Homo sapiens: one gene and its partners. The protein of the gene in region 1 purifies or fractionates together with the protein of each later gene. This does not show direct contact. Each region holds a gene or a part of one and is shown in the gene's direction. Other genes may lie near its edges.

Region 1 (3,836 bases):
CATTATATGATTCTGTCTAGTTTTGCATATGTTCTAAATTCTCCATAATAAAAAGTAAAAAACAAAAATGGAGGTTTGTGAGACTTAGGGTTTGGGGCAGGGGGCCCGGCATCTGGTGGGAGAAACCACTCAGACGAGGCTTGGGGTGAGGGCGGCTGTTGGGCATGTGAGGCCCCAGGGGTTCACAGTTACTGGAGCGTGAAGCTGTTCCAGGCACTTCACGTACCAAGAGCACCGAGGCTCAGGCCCTGCACTCCAGGACACAGACCAGGTTCAGTGGAGAGCCCTGGTGGGACCAGAGCCCAGTGGGAGGGCCCTGAACGGCCTGTGGGGCTTGAAGGAGGGGAACAGAGGCAGCGTCCATTTGTTCTGTAAGGGCCGGGAGACCAGGTGGTAAAGGAGGCCTCAGGCAAAGACAACCCAGTGTCCTGGGATCAGGGAGGCCTGGGGATGGAGCAGCAAGAACATGGTCATCCAGGCTCCCAACGAACCTTTGCTGGAACTGTAGGACACCCACTTTTGCTTTGGAAATCCAACTTCTCTTGTATTCTTCCTGGGTGACCTTGGGCAAGTTACTTAACCTCTCTGATTCTGTTTCTTCCTATGTAAAGTGGGGATAGGAATAGTACCTACCTCATGAGGTTGTTATAGGATTAATAAGAAAATACTCATAAGCATGAAAAAGAGTGCATGTTAGCTATTATTATCCTCTGAGTTTCAGGGAGGAAACTGCCCTCCCTTGGGGCAATGAGGTGATGACAGCAACAACTAAAATGAGAGAACCCCAGTGGGGAGGTGGGAACATCACAGTACTCCCTGCCACCCTTACCAGGTTTGTGATTATTTTAAATAAAACATGCTGTTTCCTGGCCAGGCACAGTGGCTCACATCTGTAATCCCAGAATTTTGGGAGGCCGAGGCAGGAGGATCACCTGAGGCCAGGAGTTCAAGACCAGCCTGAGCAACATGGTGAAACCCCATCTCTACTAAAAATACAAATAATTAGCAGGGCGTGGTGGCAGGCCCTGTAATCCCGGCTACTCAGGAGGCTGAGGCAGGAGAATCGCTTGAACCGGGAGGCAGAGGGTGCAGTGAGCCGAGATCCCACCACCGCACTCTGTCTCTAAAGAATAAAAAAGACATTATTTCCTTACAGCTGTGAGCAGGGGCAGATGCAGAAAAGAAGGTGCTGGGAAAGAGGCCAAGTAAAAGCCACTGGACCTTCTGAAGGAGAAAGTGTGGTTGGCTGGAACCACTAGGCCAAGAAACCAGCCAAGGGTCTGGCTCCGGGTGGCCTTTTTTTTTTTTTTTTTTTTTAAGAGACGGTGTCTCACTATGTTGCCCAGGTTGGTCTTGAACTCCTGGGCTCAAGCAATCCTCCTGCTTCGGCCTCCCAAAGCACTGGAATTAGAGGTGCAAACCACTGCACCAGCCCAGACTGGGCTCCAGAAGCTACCTCTGGGCCCTGTTGCCACCTCTTAGGTGGCTTCTGGAATGGGGGTCTACAGGTGTGAAAGGTCAGCCCCCCTGAGGGAGAGGTGGGGCCCGAGCAGGCTCCTCCCACTGCGGGAGTGCTGGCCTTTCCCCTGCAGGGCTGTGGCTCTGGGACCACTTCCTCTTTCTTCACTCTGAAGCCAAGAGCCGACCTTCTGAGCCCTCAAGAAAGATCAGAACAGATTCATGGGTGATTTAGCCTATCTGTCCCAGGCCAGCGTGGCTGAGTGTGCTGGCTGGAGGCCTCTCTCTCTGCTTCGAGGGTAGCTGAGATCCACCCCGGAAACCGGCAGGATGAAGGGGGCAAGTGAGGAGAAGCTGGCATCTGTGTCCAACCTGGTCACTGTGTTTGAGAATAGCAGGTATGGGCAGCTGGGGTGGGAGGGTCACCATGGTGGGCTGGCAGCCACCCTCCAGCCTTTCTGGCAGCTCTCTCCCTGGGCCCTGCCCCGGACCCTCCTCCTGCAGGGGCAGCCCCGCGTTCCTCGGTCACGGATTCCTTGGAGCATGGGAGAGTGTCGGTGGGACACCAGGAGCCAGGCAGGGGTGAGAGTGCCAGTGTGTGTTGGGAGAGTCCAGACAGGTGTGGTTACGAGCAAGCATGGGCAGACCAAAGCCTGTGTGTGGGCACAGGACCCCACCCAGTGCCTGCCAGCACCTCTCAGAAAAGGTAGCTGATACTCACCAAGAATTTACGCCCTATGATTAGGATAACCATATAATTTATCATTCAGCACACAATTGAAACTGAAAGTAAATGCCAAATAAAATGTGGTGGTTGTGGGGGAGGCATTACAGGTAAAGCTGGGACCGTATGAGGCAAACCAGGATGTACGGGCAGCATCCTGATGGGGTACTCCCTACTCTAAGTTCATGTCCTTACTTATTTAATTTAGTCATCGAACAGCCTAATAGGGGTAGATTCTGTTTCTGTTCCCGTCTTATAGATGAGGAAATGGAGACACAGAGAGGTGAGGATGCCAAGTGCTTTAAGTATCTGGGGCAATGCTGGGGCGTCTGTCTGGAGGGAAAAGGCTGGGCCAGATGCGTGGAGTCATTGGTAGCCCTGGGAGCATGTGTGTTTGTGTGTGTGCGCGTGTGTGTATGTGTGTGTTGTGTGTTATGTGTGGCATCAATCCATTCTGCAGGCATTTCTTAAGCTCAGGACTGTGTTAGGGGCTGTCCCAGGTAGGGTTTTCTGGAAATAGACTCAGACAGAGGTTTGCCTCAGGTGATTTATCAGGGAGAGCTTTTGGGAACAACAGCTGTGGGTGTGAGGGAAGCAGGGCCGGGCAGGGGGAGATGCTGAACTGCAGTGCACCTGCCACAGAGGCCTCAGCCTGTCCCAGGGAGCTCTGGAGCTGGGATGCCTCTCGGTTGTTCCAGCTGAGGAAGAGGGCTGGGTATTTGTATCTCCATGTGGACTGGACAAGAGACTCTGGGTGAGGCAGCTCTCTCTTCCAGAGAGTGATTCCCAGAGAGGGACTCAGCCAATAAATTACCCGGCAGCCCCCAGTACTACCAGTAGCTGGTGGGGATGGTGTGGGGAGGCCTCATTCCTGAAGGAGGGACATGGGTGGCACAGCACAGCATCCTACAGGAACTGTAGAGGATGAAGAAGGGTTTCAGTATTTGGATGCTGAGCTCATCGAATAACTATGATGCAAGGTCATAGACAGTAGATGTCCTAGGAATGGCCCGGATGCTGTATTGAGGGCACTCATGGCAGGCAATGTTTCCTGTAGGCTTCAGGGTGGAGATGGCATAGATGTAGACCTAGAAGTCTTCAACTTCCTGAGCTGGGTGATTCTCCCCTGCCTCTCCCGGGATCTTTGCCAAGCTCGTCCTGTTCAGCACCAAAGACAGCTCTTGGGTGCCGCCTTCCTGGCCCACCACCCCCTTGGGTGTGGGTGGATGGTACCACCTCACTCAACATGCTTGACGTGGACTAGGCACACCTGGGTGGAGCCCCTCAGCATGCTGTGCTCTGCCCAGGCAATAACCCTGGCAGGAGTGGGCAGCCCTTAGACGGGAGTTAGGTCCCAGCAGGCATCAAGAGGGTGAGAGCCACTCCTTACTGAGTGAGGGGACCCATACCAACTGCCTTGGCCTGGGCTTCCTTATGAGGTCTCCAGCACCTCAGCTGATCTGAAACTGAGGGGCAAAGAGGAAACAGAAGCTGGCCAGGGGCCCTAGAACAGAAATGCAGAACCTGAAACCAAATGTAGAACAGAAAGCCTGAGAACCAGCTACGCCCATGAGCTGCAGACCCATGGGCTGAGAAACCAGGGACTGGGGTGCCAGGGAGGGGTGGGAGAGCCTGGGAGTAGCCACACAGCACT
Region 2 (3,300 bases), on another chromosome or scaffold:
AGCACGGTATATATCTGACTTGTATTTAGATGCTTGGTAAGTGTTGGTTAAATAAATGTTTTTGTATTTTTGTTTTCTTACCTTTCTGTTATTTTAGTCTGTGTTTCTTCACATTGGCAGTAGTGTGGCTTAACTTTTAATGCCATTATCACCAATGAAGCATATCTTTTTGCTGGTTGGTGAGCCAGCCAGACCTGTTATGCCTTCTATTATACTGTCTTCTTCTTAAAAATTGTTTTGAGAAGTCATAATTGTATATACTTACGGGGTACAGTTGCTGTTTTGATATAGGTAGATAATATGGAATGATTAAACCAAAGCTGTTTAACATATTCATCACTTTGTTTGCTTATAATTTTTTGTGGTGAGACACTTGGAATTTACTCTCAGTTATTTTGAATGTAGAATACATTATTGGCTTTAGTTAACCCTGGTGTGCAGTAGGTCTCAAAACTTATTTCTGCTGTCTCTGAAACTTCATTATCTTTGACAAGTAACTCCTCATTCTCTCCCTTGTCCTGTCTCCTACCCCCTAGACTTTGGTGACCATCTACTCTCTATTTCTATGAGTTCAACTTTTTTGGATTCCACAAATGTGAGACTATGCAGTATTTGTGTTTCTGTGCTTGACTTATTTCACTTATGTTGTCCTCTAGGTTTATCCATGCCATAAATGAATAGAATTTTCCTCTTTTTTTAAGGCTGAGTGGTACTCCATTGTGTATATTTATTACATTTTCTTTATCCATGTATCTGTTGATAGACACTTAGGTTGATTCCATATCTTGGCTATTGTGAATAATGCTGCAGTGGACATGGAAGTGCAAATGGACATTCAGATAAGTCTCTTTGGTGATATATATATAATTTTTTCTCTTCAGGTACGTTCTTCAGATGTGTCATGGTCTGATACTCGTAGGACCCTCCGAAAAGATCACCGCTGGGAATCTGGATCCTTATTGGAAAGAGAGGAGAAAGAGAAGCTTTTTAATGAACACATTGAAGCACTTACCAAAAAAAAGAGAGAGCACTTTAGGCAACTTCTGGATGAAACTTCTGCAGTAAGAATCTCTTATTTTTCTCATTTTAATCTGGATGAATCTTGTTAGTAATTTCTTAAAGCAAAGCATTGATATGATTTTTAGTGTCATGGTCTTTAGATTCATTACTGGAATGCATCTTATGACAATTCTCTGATTTTAAAAAATTATGGTATTCTTATTTATTTAGAAATGCCTATTCTTTGCAGTTTTCACATTCATAACTGCTCCCATAGTAATTCAAAATGTCCTTAGCCATGTGGTCAGTGATCCCTCCTAATAATAGATTTAGCAAATTTCTTCTTTTGATCCATTTTCAATTTGGTACTATGGCCTCTTGTTCGGCAGTTTGTACGCTTTGTTATCCAGGTTTTGTTCCTTTTTATTTGCTCTCTTTTTGGTGATGGTTTCTTCAGAAGTTATGATGTTTGCCCATGTAAATACAGGGTTTGCAGGTGATTGTCTTAGGCCACCTTGAAAGTATGGCCATGAAAATAACTCTTGTGGCAAGCCAACAAAAAGAAATTGCATTAACGCTGCTTCCCTGTCCCTAACTAGTCCAGTTACGCTTGGGCATTACAAGAGATCGCAGGTCAGTGTGTAATATTATGTACCTATGTGCTGCAGTTTGACTCCCTAAGTAAAAGTGAGTTGTATTTATGTTTTTTATTCATGTCTTTTCAAAGATTACCTTAACATCCACGTGGAAAGAAGTAAAAAAAATCATTAAGGAAGATCCTCGATGTATTAAGTTCTCCTCCAGTGACAGGGTAAGAGGATTTTGTGTCGAGATTTACTGTCAGTCTATAAATACTTAAATCGGGGCCTAACAGCACTACTATCTTAACCAAAATGAAGTTGATTGTTTTAAGTGAATTACTTTTAAGTGTATGAGAAGTAAATCTGAATTTTAAGTTTATGTATTGTTTCTTGCATGATAAATTAGCAAGACAGCACAATAGAAAGTTTAAAATTTTAGTACTTGGGGTGAAGCTTGTATTTTAGGATCTTAGAAATTTAATGAAGCTGCAGTTTTATTTTAGTCAGGTACCACTAGACAGACATATTTAGGCTGGCAATTGGTACCAAACTATCAAAGCACTTGACTCTTAAGCCAAACAGAGCCCTGTAATGAGATCGCTAGTTCTCATATGCTTCAAGGTCTGAAACAGTGAATGATGTCAAGAAAAGTGTTGTTTACTACAGTCCATTTTATCCCTAGGCCTTTTATTTGTTTTCTTTTACATCATTCCCCTTTCCTGGTTGGTTTCTGTAGGTCTGGGCATCTTTTATAAAAACTCATAAATCTAATATTCTTCCCCCTCAAAGTCTATTGGATTGTAGATGTTTGGACCATAAAATATGCATGACTGGGAAAGAGGGGTAGACCCAGTCTCAGTTTCTAACTTTTCTGACTGTTTAGAATTGATAATAAAGTCTTTTTTAAGTCCAAAGAGTTTATTCATCTTATTACTTTTGGCTTGCCAGAAAGCTAAATGCTCATTACTGTGTAAGTTAAGTATTGAGTGTTAACCTACAGTTGCTGTATCCACAAATTACTCTTTTTGTTCTTGAAGTTAAAAATACAGTGTGCAGGAAGTGAACACTTAATCCTTAATATCCTTATTTTTAAGTGTCCACCTCATGAGGTTGTTGTGAAGATTGAAGTAGATGATCCTCATAAAATGCTCAGCAGTGTAGCACATAGCAAGTTCTCAAGTTTTAGCCACTACTAATTTATGATTCCTCATTCTTTCTATTTGCCGCAAAAATGAGCCTTGCAAATTGTGATTTAATGAATTTTATATATGAACAAAATGTACCCTGTTGCCTTTTTCTTTTGAATTTTAAATTTTATTATGTGACTTACACATTACTGTTTAATAAATAATTGATGTTTATTTTGGAATTAGTGGGTTTTATTTCCATAATCTCAACTTTTTTTTTTTTATTAACAGAAAAAACAAAGAGAATTTGAAGAATATATCAGAGACAAATATATCACAGCCAAAGCTGACTTCAGGACGCTTTTGAAAGAGACCAAATTTATAACATATAGGTGTGTGCAATGAAATGTTTCATATTGGCAGTCATTCTCTTTACTAGTCTTTACTCTAATGGTCAGAGCATTCTTTGCATTCACACACATGTTGACATTATTAATTTTTAGGGATAAGAAGATACCAACTTCTGTCCAAAGTCAAATACAGCCCATATCTACCATACTTTTTTTTTTTTTTAAAGAAAGGGCCCAGATGTC
Region 3 (2,542 bases), on another chromosome or scaffold:
AAGTAATTGTAGTAATTACTCCTGTGCTCTCTAGCAAGTAATGATTCTTAATAGTATGGATGTTAGGTACCTGTGCTCAGAATTCTGTACTCTTCTGGAATCAAAAGTTGGGAGATTTTGGTTGGTTTCTTTGCTTTATGATACTGCTTTTAAAGAGACTTACTGAATAATCACCTGGTGGCTGTATTGCACACCAGGCACTTAAGCACAGGCTGAGAAGTTTAGATCATTTAAAGTTTCTTCCAACTCTAACGTTCTGTTAACTATAAGGACAGTTTGTTTCAGTGTGATGTAAAGGGAAAAGACAGGAAGGTCATCGCACTCTTCCACGAACATCCACAACTGTCAAAGACATACGCCTTACTTACATTGAGATAAAAGAATGTTTGATTTTTCCCTTCCAGGCATTCCAAAGGAGCAGAACACATTTATAATTTTTACTTCCATGTTCAGAAAGGGGAACAACAAACCCCAGAGGTAATCCCAGAAATCTCTAGCATGGATCAATAGCTTCAGTACTCTGTTGGTGGCTTAGTGACCTCATTTACAGTGTTTCATACACTCTGAAACTACCTACAAGCTACCTTTGATAAATGAGTCTCAGAAAGTGCTGGGAGAGAGATTGTTGGCTTCTTAACCTACAAAATGAGGAAGGAAAGATACTATTGTTGAGAAATGTGGAGACCTTTCCTTAGCACTATGACAGAAGCATTCATTGCACATGGATTCTGACTATGCATCCACATGGACTTAATTAAAGGAAACCTGGTCCTGTATAAATCTTAGGAAACAGGTGTATGTTTTAATCATGTCTTTTGGGTATAATTAACAGGAAAATGACATGAAAACAAAACTAAACAATCTGCTAACACCTTTTGACATTTGTTTTTTCATCATTGCTGTTTTTCCAAATTTTGTTAGCCCTTGTCAAGGTTTGCTAACCAATTCTTAATTAATACTTACTTTAAAGAGCCTGTGAAATTATTCTCTCTCAGGCTGTGACCCTCTTGCCATCTTGATACGTCATGAGAACGAAACTCACCAGCCATGTTCATTAAATACTGCATTTAACTAAGAGAAACTTTAAAAATTTGGGATTATAGTTAAGGTCTCCTATCTTTGGAACCTGATTAATTTATCTTTCTTTGGATTAAGCAAAAATTCTAATTTTAGCTATGAAAGAAAAGAAATTCTATTCTTAATTGGAAAAGACCATTAAACTGTTTCCCCAGAGGTTCTGGTTGACATTACTTTCTAGCATGTAGATTTTGCTTTTGCATTTTCATGGTGGAACAGATGGTCACTCACTTCTGCAGAGCCAAAGCCAAGGAAGCAGAACTGTTGAAGTTTTGGCTTAGGAACCACTTGACAAAGATTTGTTTAGAAGCCATTACAGATGGTTAAACAGTACCCCTAATCAGCTGCATTATTTTCTTAAGAAATTAATCTCTACCGTCTTTATAACTATATTCTTTTACTTATTATTTTTTTGAGATGGAGTTTGCTGTGTCACTAAGGCTGCAGCGCAGTGGTGTGATCTTGGCTCACTGCAGCTTTGAACTCGTGTGCTCAAGCAGTTCTCCCCACCTCAGCCTCCCAAGTAGCCAGGACTACAGGCAAGCTAATAAATGCCTGGCTAATTTATCTTTTCTAGAGATGGGGCCTCACTGTGTTGCCCAGGCTGGTCTTGAACTCGTGGCCTCACGTGATCTTCCCACCTGGGCTTTCCAAAGTGCCAGGATTACAGGCGTGAGTCGCCATACCTGGCCCTATTCTTTCTTCTGTTCTTTTCCACAAGACTGTTAACTTCAGTGGCTTTTTTCCTGTTGGAAAACTTTCTACCTTTGATGATTTAATTTTATCAGCTTTTTAACTGTTTTAACTGTTCTTAATTCTGTCTTGTCAACCACTGGTATGTCAAAGGAGGCCTCAAAAGGCTGAAGCGATTTTCCTCAAAAATTACAACTCTTTTTTTTCCTGATATTGTATATAATGTATAATTAACACTGTTCACTATTAAATCTTTGCTTAGCAAAAGAGAACTCTGTGGTGCCTAGAGTATGTCTCATAAAGTATAGTTGTAAGTTTGGCTTATTAATGTAAGTAGTAATAGTCATAACGATTAACACTAGCTGAGCTTCTTCCACATCGGGCTCTGTACAGATACTATTTTTATTTTATTTTTGAGATGGAGTCTCACTCTTTCACCCAGGCTGGAGTGAAGTGGTGTAATCTTGGCTCACTGCAGCCCCCGCCTCCCGGGTTCAAGCAACCCTCCTGCCTCAGCCTCCCGAGTAGCTGGGACTACAGGCATGTGCCACCACGCCCAGCTAATTTTTGTATTTTTAGTAGAGACAGGGTTTCACCAGGTTGGCCAGGCATATTACGAATTCCTGACCTCAGTTGATCTCCTGCCTTGGCCTCACAAAGTGTTGGAATTACAGGTGTGAGCCACTGTGCCCAGCCAAGCACATGTTTAAGAGAGCAGAGGGCTTGGAAATGAAATTATTGCCAACTTTGCCAATAGTCAAGTCAGTGTGGC

The links.
Region 2: the proteins of FGD2 (region 1) and TCERG1 purify together in Homo sapiens (affinity purification with mass spectrometry; one large-scale study listed by BioGRID and IntAct). This does not show direct contact.
Region 3: the proteins of FGD2 (region 1) and HP1BP3 purify together in Homo sapiens (affinity purification with mass spectrometry, with the first as the bait; one large-scale study listed by BioGRID). This does not show direct contact.

The regions. Positions count from the first base shown.
Region 1 is NC_000006.12:37,004,030-37,007,865, forward strand, and holds the start of FGD2 (FYVE, RhoGEF and PH domain-containing protein 2), read left to right. Parts: upstream 1-1,625; 5' UTR 1,626-1,788; coding exon 1,789-1,856; intron 1,857-3,836. UniProt on the Homo sapiens protein: Activates CDC42, a member of the Ras-like family of Rho- and Rac proteins, by exchanging bound GDP for free GTP. Activates JNK1 via CDC42 but not RAC1.
Region 2 is NC_000005.10:146,506,147-146,509,446, forward strand, and holds part of TCERG1 (transcription elongation regulator 1), read left to right. Parts: intron 1-881; coding exon 882-1,061; intron 1,062-1,486; coding exon of another isoform or gene 1,487-1,594; exon of another isoform or gene 1,595-1,632; intron 1,633-1,726; coding exon 1,727-1,810; intron 1,811-2,998; coding exon 2,999-3,099; intron 3,100-3,300. UniProt on the Homo sapiens protein: Transcription factor that binds RNA polymerase II and inhibits the elongation of transcripts from target promoters. Regulates transcription elongation in a TATA box-dependent manner.
Region 3 is NC_000001.11:20,739,766-20,742,307, reverse strand, and holds the end of HP1BP3 (heterochromatin protein 1-binding protein 3), read left to right. Parts: 3' UTR 1-2,042; downstream 2,043-2,542. UniProt on the Homo sapiens protein: Component of heterochromatin that maintains heterochromatin integrity during G1/S progression and regulates the duration of G1 phase to critically influence cell proliferative capacity.